3 linked regions of the Homo sapiens genome follow. The protein of the gene in region 1 purifies or fractionates together with the protein of each later gene. This does not show direct contact. Each region holds a gene or a part of one and is shown on either strand. Other genes may lie near its edges. The genes, in order: RBPJL, PCDH7 and BORA.

Evidence for each region.
Region 2: the proteins of RBPJL (region 1) and PCDH7 purify together in Homo sapiens (affinity purification with mass spectrometry; one large-scale study listed by BioGRID and IntAct). This does not show direct contact.
Region 3: the proteins of RBPJL (region 1) and BORA purify together in Homo sapiens (affinity purification with mass spectrometry; one large-scale study listed by BioGRID and IntAct). This does not show direct contact.

The regions. Positions count from the first base shown.
Region 1 is NC_000020.11:45,313,235-45,316,890, forward strand, and holds part of RBPJL (recombining binding protein suppressor of hairless-like protein), read left to right. Parts: intron 1-233; coding exon 234-371; intron 372-800; coding exon 801-910; intron 911-1,178; coding exon 1,179-1,331; intron 1,332-2,952; coding exon 2,953-3,108; intron 3,109-3,242; coding exon 3,243-3,346; coding exon of another isoform or gene 3,347-3,356; intron 3,357-3,451; coding exon 3,452-3,656. UniProt on the Homo sapiens protein: Putative transcription factor, which cooperates with EBNA2 to activate transcription.
Region 2 is NC_000004.12:30,919,308-30,922,963, forward strand, and holds part of PCDH7 (protocadherin-7 isoform d precursor), read left to right. Parts: intron 1-845; coding exon 846-1,062; intron 1,063-3,656.
Region 3 is NC_000013.11:72,744,867-72,748,522, forward strand, and holds part of BORA (protein aurora borealis), read left to right. Parts: intron 1-114; coding exon 115-341; intron 342-1,077; coding exon 1,078-1,210; intron 1,211-1,634; coding exon 1,635-2,245; intron 2,246-3,656. UniProt on the Homo sapiens protein: Required for the activation of AURKA at the onset of mitosis.

The sequences.
Region 1 (3,656 bases):
CACTGATAGCACCAACTAACCTTAACCCTCACCCTGACCCCCTCCCTCACCCTAACCCTCACCCTAATCCTAATCCTTACCCTCACCCTCACTCTAACCCTCACCCTAATCCTAACCCTCACCCTCACCCTAACCCTCACCCTAACCCTAACCCCAATCCTAACCCTAACCCTATCCCCTCACCCTAACCCTGACCCTCACCCTCACCCTAACCCTGACCCTCACCCTCACAGTGTGCATATCCTCCGGCTCAAAGGTCTCCCTCTTCAACCGCCTGCGCTCTCAGACGGTCTCCACACGCTACCTCTCTGTGGAGGATGGGGCCTTTGTGGCCAGTGCACGACAGTGGGCTGCCTTCACGCTCCACCTGGGTAATGACATCTGCAGGCCCTGGAGCTGGGCACTTCACATGCATTAGCTTATTTAACCTCCACCACAACTCCTTAAGGAAGGTAAACTCTGCCCCATGTGATTAAGGCTCAGAAACACAAAAAGACTTGACTACAGTCCCAGTGAGCTGGTGACTGTTCCAAGCTATTCTGACTCCCTTATCCATGCCCTTTCCCCATATATCAACTAAGCTGCCTGCCCCCAACCCCTGCCCCCAGGGCAGACATTTGTGAGGATGGCCTCAAATGGCCTCTCCAGAATTAGAACCTTCAGTTGGCTCCCCTGAGTACCAAGCTTTCCCGCAGGGCCCATGTGTGATGTGAGGAAGAGCCAGAGGCAACAAGGCAGGGTTTAAGGCAGAAGCTTGGGGGCCGCTGAAAACCTTGTCCCTTGCTTTTTTTGTCCCCCAGCTGATGGGCACTCTGCCCAAGGAGACTTCCCACCGCGAGAGGGCTACGTTCGCTATGGCTCCCTGGTGCAGCTCGTCTGCACGGTCACCGGCATCACACTACCTCCCATGGTATAGGAAGGGAGGGCATGCCTGGAGGGGTCCCCTCAGATCCATGCAGAGAATGTGGCACACACGGGCAGGGCTGGAGAGTGAGGCCCCAAGGCATGGAGACACCTGTTCTCACCCAGTGTCGCGTAGGACCAGACAGAAGTCAAAGGGCAGGGGGAATCTGCTAGTGCCTGTGTGGCTATTGGAGTAGCAGACAGCCGGCTAGGAGGGCAGCCTCTGGACGCCCGGGCTCCTTGCCACCACTGTTCTTACCATCCTTCCATTGCAGATCATCCGTAAAGTAGCAAAACAGTGTGCGCTCCTTGATGTGGATGAGCCCATCTCCCAGCTGCACAAGTGTGCATTCCAGTTTCCAGGCAGTCCCCCAGGAGGGGGTGGCACCTACTTATGCCTTGCCACAGAGAAGGTGGTGCAATTTCAGGTAAGAAGCAGAGAATACCAGCACCAAGTGTCCTGGAAAGGGAGAATGCAGAGAACCACAGAATGTAAGATCATCACCCTCACCATGGTTGCTACTTCCTGAGCAGCCTCCCATGGAACATTAAAATCATAGACTCCCAGGACAGAATCATAGGATGTAGAAAAATAGTAATAAGTAATAGTATGAAGCAATATTCCTTCCCAAAGAATTTTAGAGTCATAAAATATTGGGATATAGCCAGGTGCGGTGGCTCATGCCTGTAATCCCAGCACTTTGCGAGGCTGAGGTGGGCAGAACACCTGAGGTCAGGAGTTCGAGACTAGACTGGCCAACATGGTGAAATCCCATCTCTACTAAAAATACAAAAATTAGCTGGGCATGGCAGTGGGCGCCTGTAATCTCAGCTACTCAGGAGGCTGAGGCAGGAGAATTGCTTGAACCTGAGAGGTGGAGGTTGCAGTGAGCCAGGATCACACCATTGCACTCCAGCCTGGGTGACAAGAGCAAGACTCCATCTCAAAAAAAGTAAGTAAATAAATTGGGATATAAAATTGTAGGATGTAAATAAAAATCATGATAGGTAATAGAGAGCAGAGAATTAATGAGCAAAGACTATTCGAAGCACAGATAAAGACACAGAATGTGGAAAATTATAGAATGTGGAAAATAATAATTATCGTTAAGCAGTAGTACTCCCAAAAGAATATTATCATAGAATGTTACGAGATAGAATTATAATATGTGGAAAATAGCAAGTATTATTCCTTCCCCAAGAATATTCCTTCCCAAAGAATATTAAAATTGTAGATTATTAGAGCATAGAATTGCACAATGTTAAAAAAAAAAAAATTCTGGAATCCCAAGAAAAAAGACCCTTAGAAATCAGCTATCCCAGGCCGGGCCAATGGCTCATGCCTGTAGTCACAATACTTTGGGAGGCTGAGGCAGGAGGATCACGAGGCCAGGAGTTTGAGACCAGCCTGGCCAACATGGTGAAACCCTGTCTCTACTAAAAATACAAAAAAATTATTTGGGCGTGGTGGCTGGCACCTGTAATCCCAGCTACCCGGGCGCCTGAGGCAGGAGAATCATTTGAACCCGGGAGGCGGAGGTTGCAATGAGCCAAGATCAGGCCATTGCACTCCAGCCTGGGCGACAGAGCGAGATTCAGTCTCAAAAAAAAAAAAAGGAAGAAAGGAAGGAAGGAAGGAAGAAGAGAGAAAGAGAGAGAGAGAAAGAAAAAGAAAGAAAGAAAGAAAAGAAAGAGAAAGAAAAGAAAAAGAGAAAGGGAAAGAAAGAAAAGGAAGGAAGGAAAGAAAGAAAAAGAAAGAAAGGAAAAAAGAGAGAGAAAGGGAAAGAAAAAGAAAAGGAAGGAAGGAAGGAAAATAAAGAAAAAAGAAAGAAGAAAGAAGAAAGAAGAAATCAGCTAGCTCAACAAGCTTTCTTAACGCTAAGTGAGAGAACTTAAGGGCACTGTCCAAGCTGAGGGGACAAGTGAACCCCAGAGCCTAGGATTAGTATCCAGTTCGGTCTAACGCAGAAGCCCACGCGCCATGCTGGCTCCCTACACTGGTGGCCACCATGAGAAGCTTCGGCCTCGTCCCCTTGGGTCTCCTCCCAGGCCTCTCCCTGCCCCAAGGAGGCGAACAGGGCTCTGCTTAACGACAGCTCTTGCTGGACCATCATCGGCACCGAGTCGGTGGAATTTTCCTTCAGCACCAGCCTGGCGTGTACCCTGGAGCCGGTCACTCCGGTGCCTCTCATCAGCACCCTAGAGGTGAAGCCGGGCGCTAGGGGCGTTGGGCAGGGGGACCCTGCCTGCACTGGGCAGTGGTGGTGCTAGTGAGTGGGGGGCAGCGGGTTCCCGCCCTACTTGGTTCTCTCACCTCACCTGGTCCCACCCTCCCCCAGCTGAGCGGCGGGGGCGACGTGGCCACGCTGGAGCTCCACGGAGAGAACTTCCACGCGGGGCTCAAGGTGTGGTTTGGGGACGTGGAGGCAGAAACCATGTACAGGTACGGGGTGGTGAGGCAGCCTCTCTTGGGCCCCGGGGAGCAGGGGAAGGGGGTGCACGCGTCGTCGGAGTCGCCGCAGCCCTCACCCTGGTGCTCCACCCCCAGGAGCCCGCGGTCCCTGGTGTGCGTGGTGCCGGACGTGGCGGCCTTCTGCAGCGACTGGCGCTGGCTGCGCGCTCCCATCACAATCCCCATGAGCCTGGTGCGCGCCGACGGGCTCTTCTACCCTAGTGCCTTCTCCTTCACCTACACCCCGGAATACAGCGTGCGGCCGGGTCACCCCGGCGTCCCCGAGCCCGCCACCGACGCC
Region 2 (3,656 bases), on another chromosome or scaffold:
TATTTTGTGGTTAACCAAGATAATCTGCAAATACCTTCCATAGTAAATCTTCAGTCCAGCCATTGTCAGTAACATAGTAAATTGTGGAGTTCAACTGGATAGTTTCATAAAATTTTTTAAAAACAAATTAAAGGCTGTACATGATTTTACTTTATTGAACGAATCACAAACAGTAATATTAAGAACATACAATTAAACTTTATAGTTTATTTCCTACTCACTGTTTAGGGATACTTTTATCTATTATTGCAATATGACTCTTACAATTTCAAGGTCCATAGGCAATATTTTTATAGGAATGATGTAATAAACATATTTGTGTTTCCTAGCACTGCATCTAAATTCCTATTTGTCAGCTGTACTTTGAACAGTTTAAGTCAACTGCCAACCCATTTGATTTTATAGCTTTGTATGATATGGACAAAGTATTTAAAAATTGAGTCTTCTTACAATGGATTAGTTCAATATTTACTGCCTTCACAAATCACTGACCTTGTTTTTTTAGAGGCCATTTCTGGAAAGCATATCTGAAGTGAATACTATAGAATAGAAAAAGGTTGAATATGTGGAACTAACATATCAGATTTAAATGTATGTTTTAGTGAAATTACTGTTTTTTTATCTCTGTTTCTGAAAGGGAATTTCCAGTTTTTCCATAATAAAATCTAAGCTCTAGACATTGCCTTAGATAATACATAGTTAACTAATGCAGTTTCAACATATCTATTCATTTTGTATTGAATTAGTTGCCAGTAGACCTTAATGTATGTAATTTATGTATTTTTTAAAATAAGATCATTTACAATCTTACATCGTAGTGACATTCAGAATCTTTTCTTTTGCAGCCATTTCGTAGAGTGACGTTTTCTGTTGTGAGTCAGCCTCAGGACCCACATCAGGGGTCACTGCAGAGTTGCTATGACAGCGGGCTGGAGGAGTCAGAAACACCAAGCAGTAAGAGTTCATCAGGGCCAAGACTGGGTGCGCTTCCACTCCCAGAGGACAACTATGAAAGGACCACGCCGGATGGCAGTGTTGGTGAGGCAGAGCATATGGAAAATGGTAGGGGCAAACACAACATCCACACACATAATCACGCTAGTGAGCCGTAATAAGTAGACTCGCGAAGGTCAGTCTAAAACCAAAATAAAATAGCTGACATTAAAACCATTTTATTTTAAGTGATAAATATTTGCTAAAATACAGAAATGCCAAATAAAGGAACATAACTCTGTAGATAAAATTCACCCAAATTGCACCATCATTTTAAAACATCCTGTCAGAAATAAACGCACTTATAAATAAATCAGAACAGGGCCCACTATGAAGGAAGCTAAATAAGTGCAGAATTCCTAAACAATAGTCACCAAGAAAGGTCTTGTCTAATTGTTTTCTTCTATTCATTTTTGTCATGCAACTATTTCTTCAATTGCAGCTGTCCAGTCTTAGTGAAAGGAAATGAAAGAAACATACCTTGCTCTACCTTTTCTTGTCCTAGATGTTTAGAAAAGCATTTTCAAACCTCTCCTTTCCTATGATCACTGAATAGGGTCAAAAGAGAACAGTACTACTTTGTTCTCCATAGTATGCAATAAATGCTATTAGAATTTCCCTCCTATTCAAGTATAAGGTTTTTTTTTATTTTTATGTGAGAGAAAGGAAGGAAAATAAATCATAATACTCCATATTTTTATACTGTTTTGAGGTGATTCTCATAATTACCACAATTGGCCTTGTATACATTTTCTTTTAAGTTATACATTTAGATTGCAAATAGCACTTATAAAACTTTCCACATTTGTTTATATTCCCAGAGATAATTTGGTGATTTATTTTCTGGATTTTGAGTCATAAGTAAATGCCTGAGGAATAGGTTTGTGTCAAATAATGGAATGGTAAAATTCATCCTAACTTCATTATTCTTTCAAATATGAAGAGAGAGATGGTTAAACAGAGAGAAAGGAAAGGAATCACACACATTTTATCCCTAGTAAAACTTGCAGTGGATTTATGTCTTTTGCCATCTCAACCCCCGAGTGACATAAGACGCTCTAACTTTTTGTTATATATCCGTTTCTTTAGTGCTGATATATATGCAAGTAGAGCATATTAATGCAGGAGAAAGACTGATTTTCTTCTGTAAGTTTACCTATGAATATTAAAATCCAATATTAGAATATAATATATTATAAAGGACCCCAAATGAAAGTATTGCTAAATTATATTATGCTAAATAATTATTTATCCACATTGTTCTTGGTTAAGAAAATATGATATCAGGGTCTGATGATTGACGTCCCTCTTGATTAATTTTGCAGAGTTAAAATGGCATTTTGCCTTATGGCTATAAAAGCATGCTTATCTGTGTGTATGGTGGTGTGTGCTTATGTGGATGGGAGTCTGGTGTGGTTTCTAAGAGTTACATTTTTTTTAGTAATTTTTTTAATGGGCATATAATTTTGGTATGAATTGCAATGCTGATGAATATATATTTAAGGCAGATATGTTTAAAATTATTTGGAAAAAGAAATTAAACTAAAAATACTGTAATTACATACATACTATGTAATTACATATGTAATTTGGATGTCAGCTTTATTAAAAAAGGACTTTGTACCCCTGGCATTATAATCATTTTTCAATGTTAGTTTCTGTTTTATGAGTTTATGGGGATTCATCACCTTTAAAATAAGAAATAAGTGATGAATAATTAAAAGATAATTATGTAATTACATGTATGTAGCCACATGTAATTGCATGTATGTAGTCACATGTACTATAGTGTATTACGTTACATATGTGTAACGTGTAATTACGTATGTGTGATATATGTAATATATAATATGTATATAGTACATATAATTACTTATATGTACATATGTATGTAATTACAGTATTTTTAATATAGATAGATGATAAATAGAGCATACCTAGGAAGGCAGGATTAATTTAATTTAGGGGTATTACTACATCTGAGATTACCTGTTCATGAGAACATATAATTTTGTTTGTGTTTTTAAAAGTGCTTATTCTTACTGTAAAGCACAGAATGTACAATTAAATCTTTATTTTTTGGATGTCAGCTTTATTAAAAAAGGACTTTGCACCACTGGCATTATAATCATTTTTTAATGTTAGTTTCTGTTTTATGAGTTTATGGGGATTCATCACCTTTAAAATAAGAAAGAAATGATGAATAATTAAAAGATAATTATATATGACAAACACATATCGGTTACCTTTTAGGAAACACACATGTCATGGAAAACTTAACAGGTGAGCTTGTTAATAAAATATAAAGTATACTGAGAAAGAGTTCCAAAAAACGACTTTTAATTCTTTTTTAGAACCAAGTTTTTAAGGCCTGTCAAAAGCAAGGGTCATGATAATGTAACGGATCTTTCCTGATTTTGTATGTGACCAACACTTGAAAGTCAGAGTTTATATGACCATTTGTCATCTACTGGCTGTGATTCATGTTAGCCTTGATCTATAGGTAATGACAAAATGAGATGCGATGCACTGTGGCTGATCTAAATGTAGCAGTTGACCTTTGAGTAACAAATTTGTTGGGTCCGTGTTTTCAGACTACTCATCTAGCCATAAAGTGCAATTGTGTTGCTTAAATTCTGGTAATTTCATCTTCAGTATTAATG
Region 3 (3,656 bases), on another chromosome or scaffold:
TTTTGGGAAAAAATTCAAACATAGTGCATGCTGGCTTCTTAAAAGTTGAGTAACAGAAGTATAATTGCCCTTTAAAATGACTAGCTTTGCCTTTTCTCCTATTATTAAATATAGGTGACTATTTTAGAGCTGATGAATTTGCAGATCAATCTCCTGGAAACCTCAGTTCTTCATCCCTCAGAAGAAAGCTGTTTTTAGATGGGAACGGAAGCATCTCCGACTCCTTACCTTCGGCTTCTCCCGGAAGTCCTCACAGTGGTGTTCAAACATCACTAGAGATGTTTTATTCAATAGATTTGTCTCCTGTAAAGTGTAGGAGCCCCTTGCAGACACCAAGTTCGGTGAGAAGTATACTAAAAAGCAGTTGGCTAATATGCTGTCAAGCTTGAACCCACATTTTGTTGTTGTTCTATCTTAGGCTTTCAGCAGCCTGAAGCCATGGTTGCTTTCTGTCTCTAGTAAATAAGTGGAAAAGAGGGATGAGGAAGGGCCTTTACTGGCCTAACCAGAAACAGAAACTAAGAACTCATGACTGTATTCTCTCCCTTGGACACCCCTGTGAGCTGCCCAGATTGCTTTCAGAAGGAGGGATGGTTGTCTTTTGAGTATTATGCTTCACAGAAACTAACTCTAGTTCGTATGTTATCATTAGTCATAGGGATGTTTTAGGTCAGACTCTTCAATTTTGTATTTAGATATGTACAGGATGACCAGATTTATCATGAGTCTCAAGGAAATTCAGCATAGGTTATTTACTAAAGTGTGTGAGATTTACAGTATAATACAACTGGCTTGGCATTAATAAATTTAAAAATTTTTCACAGATGGTTGCTTAGTGTGAAACTTAATGGTTTGTTCAAATACAATGTGTTTATATTTTGACTAACATATTTGATACTATTTCAGAATTTTTGTAGCAATCTTCTTAGTTGTCTTTGTTGCAAGGTGTCTTTTGGTGGTTCTCGTGAACTATTACTAGTTTATAAGTGTGTTTTGAAGACCATGATAAATAGCATGCAGCATAAGAGTTAAGGAAGAGAACCATATACATTTATTTACTATTTAATTTTATTACAGGGGCAGTTTTCTTCTAGCCCTATTCAGGCTAGTGCAAAAAAATACAGCTTGGGAAGCATAACTAGTCCTTCGCCTATTTCTTCACCCACTTTCTCACCAATTGAATTTCAGATAGGAGAGACTCCACTCTCAGGTATGTCTCATAATAAAATACCTAGTTAAAAGTTTTATACTATCAATATTTGTTATTAGAGAGGTTCTTTTAATTTGTCTTAATGATAGAGCTCAAAATGATCACTAACCTTCTAACATTTAGGAACTTTGATTTTTAAATAAAAGAACAGTTTACCTTCAAAGGCTGGAATTCTCACCAGTTTGTACTGTAGTGTTAAATATAGTTACTTTAATTAGCAATATTTACATCAAACACTATCAAAGGAAATTTAGCAATTTCCATTTGTGCTATTGTTTTTGACATCACAATTTCACTTTGGTAAACAACACAACTGTTACAGAAATGCAGTTTTTCCTGGCATGAAACATGATTACCATTTAGTAGTGACTTTTCCATTTTCATGTTTTTATGATGTGATTTTTTTTCCCTTCCCACCTTTCAGAACAAAGGAAGTTTACTGTTCATTCTCCTGATGCTTCATCTGGAACAAATTCTAATGGGATAACTAATCCGTGTATCAGAAGTCCTTATATAGATGGCTGCTCGCCAATTAAAAATTGGTCTCCTATGAGACTTCAGATGTATAGTGGTGGTACTCAGTATCGGACCTCAGTGATTCAGATACCTTTTACTCTTGAGACTCAAGGTGAAGATGAGGAAGATAAAGAGAATATTCCTTCCACAGATGTCTCATCACCCGCCATGGATGCTGCTGGAATACACCTACGGCAGTTTAGTAATGAGGCTTCTACCCATGGTACACATTTGGTTGTGACTGCCATGTCTGTTACACAAAATCAGTCCAGTGCTTCTGAGAAAGAATTAGCACTGTTGCAGGATGTTGAAAGGGAGAAAGACAATAACACTGTGGATATGGTTGATCCTATAGAGATAGCAGATGAGACCACTTGGATTAAGGAGCCGGTTGATAATGGCAGTTTACCCATGACTGATTTTGTAAGTGGCATTGCCTTCAGTATTGAAAACTCTCATATGTGCATGTCACCTCTTGCTGAAAGCAGTGTCATTCCTTGTGAAAGCAGTAACATTCAGGTAAGGTATTTAATATTCTATAGCCCCTTCCTCACTGCCTTGGTGTTCTTTATCCTTTCTAAGATTATAGTATAAGAAAGATAATGGATTAAACATGAGGACTACAGTATTATATAATATTTTTTAAAAATATTAATACCAAGTGATATGAGAAGAGTAAATTTATTTTAATTATGACAGATAAGGCATATTTTATATTCACATTAACTGATATTTGTATGGAGTAGGAAAAGGTAAGAGCAGAAAAGAAATTAGCCTGCTCTAGAGAAATCAATCCTGCTAGAGTCAGGCAGGATTCATCACTGTTTCATGTGGATCCAGTCCCCCAAAACATGCAAGGTCTGGTATAGTATTTGCATTCTAAAAATAAAATCATTTTTGTTTTTCCTTTATGTGATTTAGGGGGGATAAAAAGAGTTTAGAGCACTGGTTTTTTTTTTGAGATGGGGTCTCACTCTGTCACCCAGGCTGGAGTGCAGTGGTGTGATCTTGGCTCAGTGCAACCTCCACCTTCTGGGTTCAAGCAATTCTCCTGCCTCAGCCTCCTGAGTAGCTGGGACTACAGGTGTGCGTCACCACACCTGGCTAATTTTTGTATTTTTGTAGAGATAGGATTTAGCTATGTTGGCCAGGCTGGTCTCGAACTCATGACCTCAGTTGATCCGCCCACCTCAGCCTCCCAAAGTGCTGGGATTATAGGCATGAGCCACCGCGCCTGGCCTTAGAGTTCTTTTATGTATGCATTTTTGTGCTTTTCTTTTAGAAACATGATTTATAGCAACATTTTTCATGAAATTATACATTTCCAATTTTGCAATGTCTCTGACAACAGGAAAACCTGATTCATTTAACAGATACGTATACTTCATAATTAGCACTTTGGAAAGGCATTTGTTCCATTCATTGTTGTGTTCTTTGAGCTGAGAATTTTGAAGGAACTTCTTTAGAAGTTCTGACTTTAGTCAGAAGGGGATAGCAATAACATCTAACACTAACGTAGCATTACTATGTGCCAAGTCCTATTCTGAGACCTTTACATGTTTTACTTTGTTGAATTTTTACAGCAATCCTGTGAGGTATGTGTACTGTTATCCCTGTTTTACAGATGAGGAAACTGAGGGTCAGAGAGGTTAAGTAAATTACCTAAAGTTTCTATACAACTAGTAAGTGGAAGAGCTGAGATTTGATCCCAGCAGTCTGGCTTTAGAGTCCATGTTCTTTAATCCAAAAGTTAATACTGACTTATAATAATAGCTAATACGCACATAGTGTTTTGATATACCAGGCACTCTTCTAACCACTTTATTAATTCATTTAATTCTCACACCAACTCTATAAGGCTTTAGTGTTGTCAGTTTTGGCATGCTGAAGTTAAAACTCAGGGAAGGATTCTAAATGACCCAAAATTAAA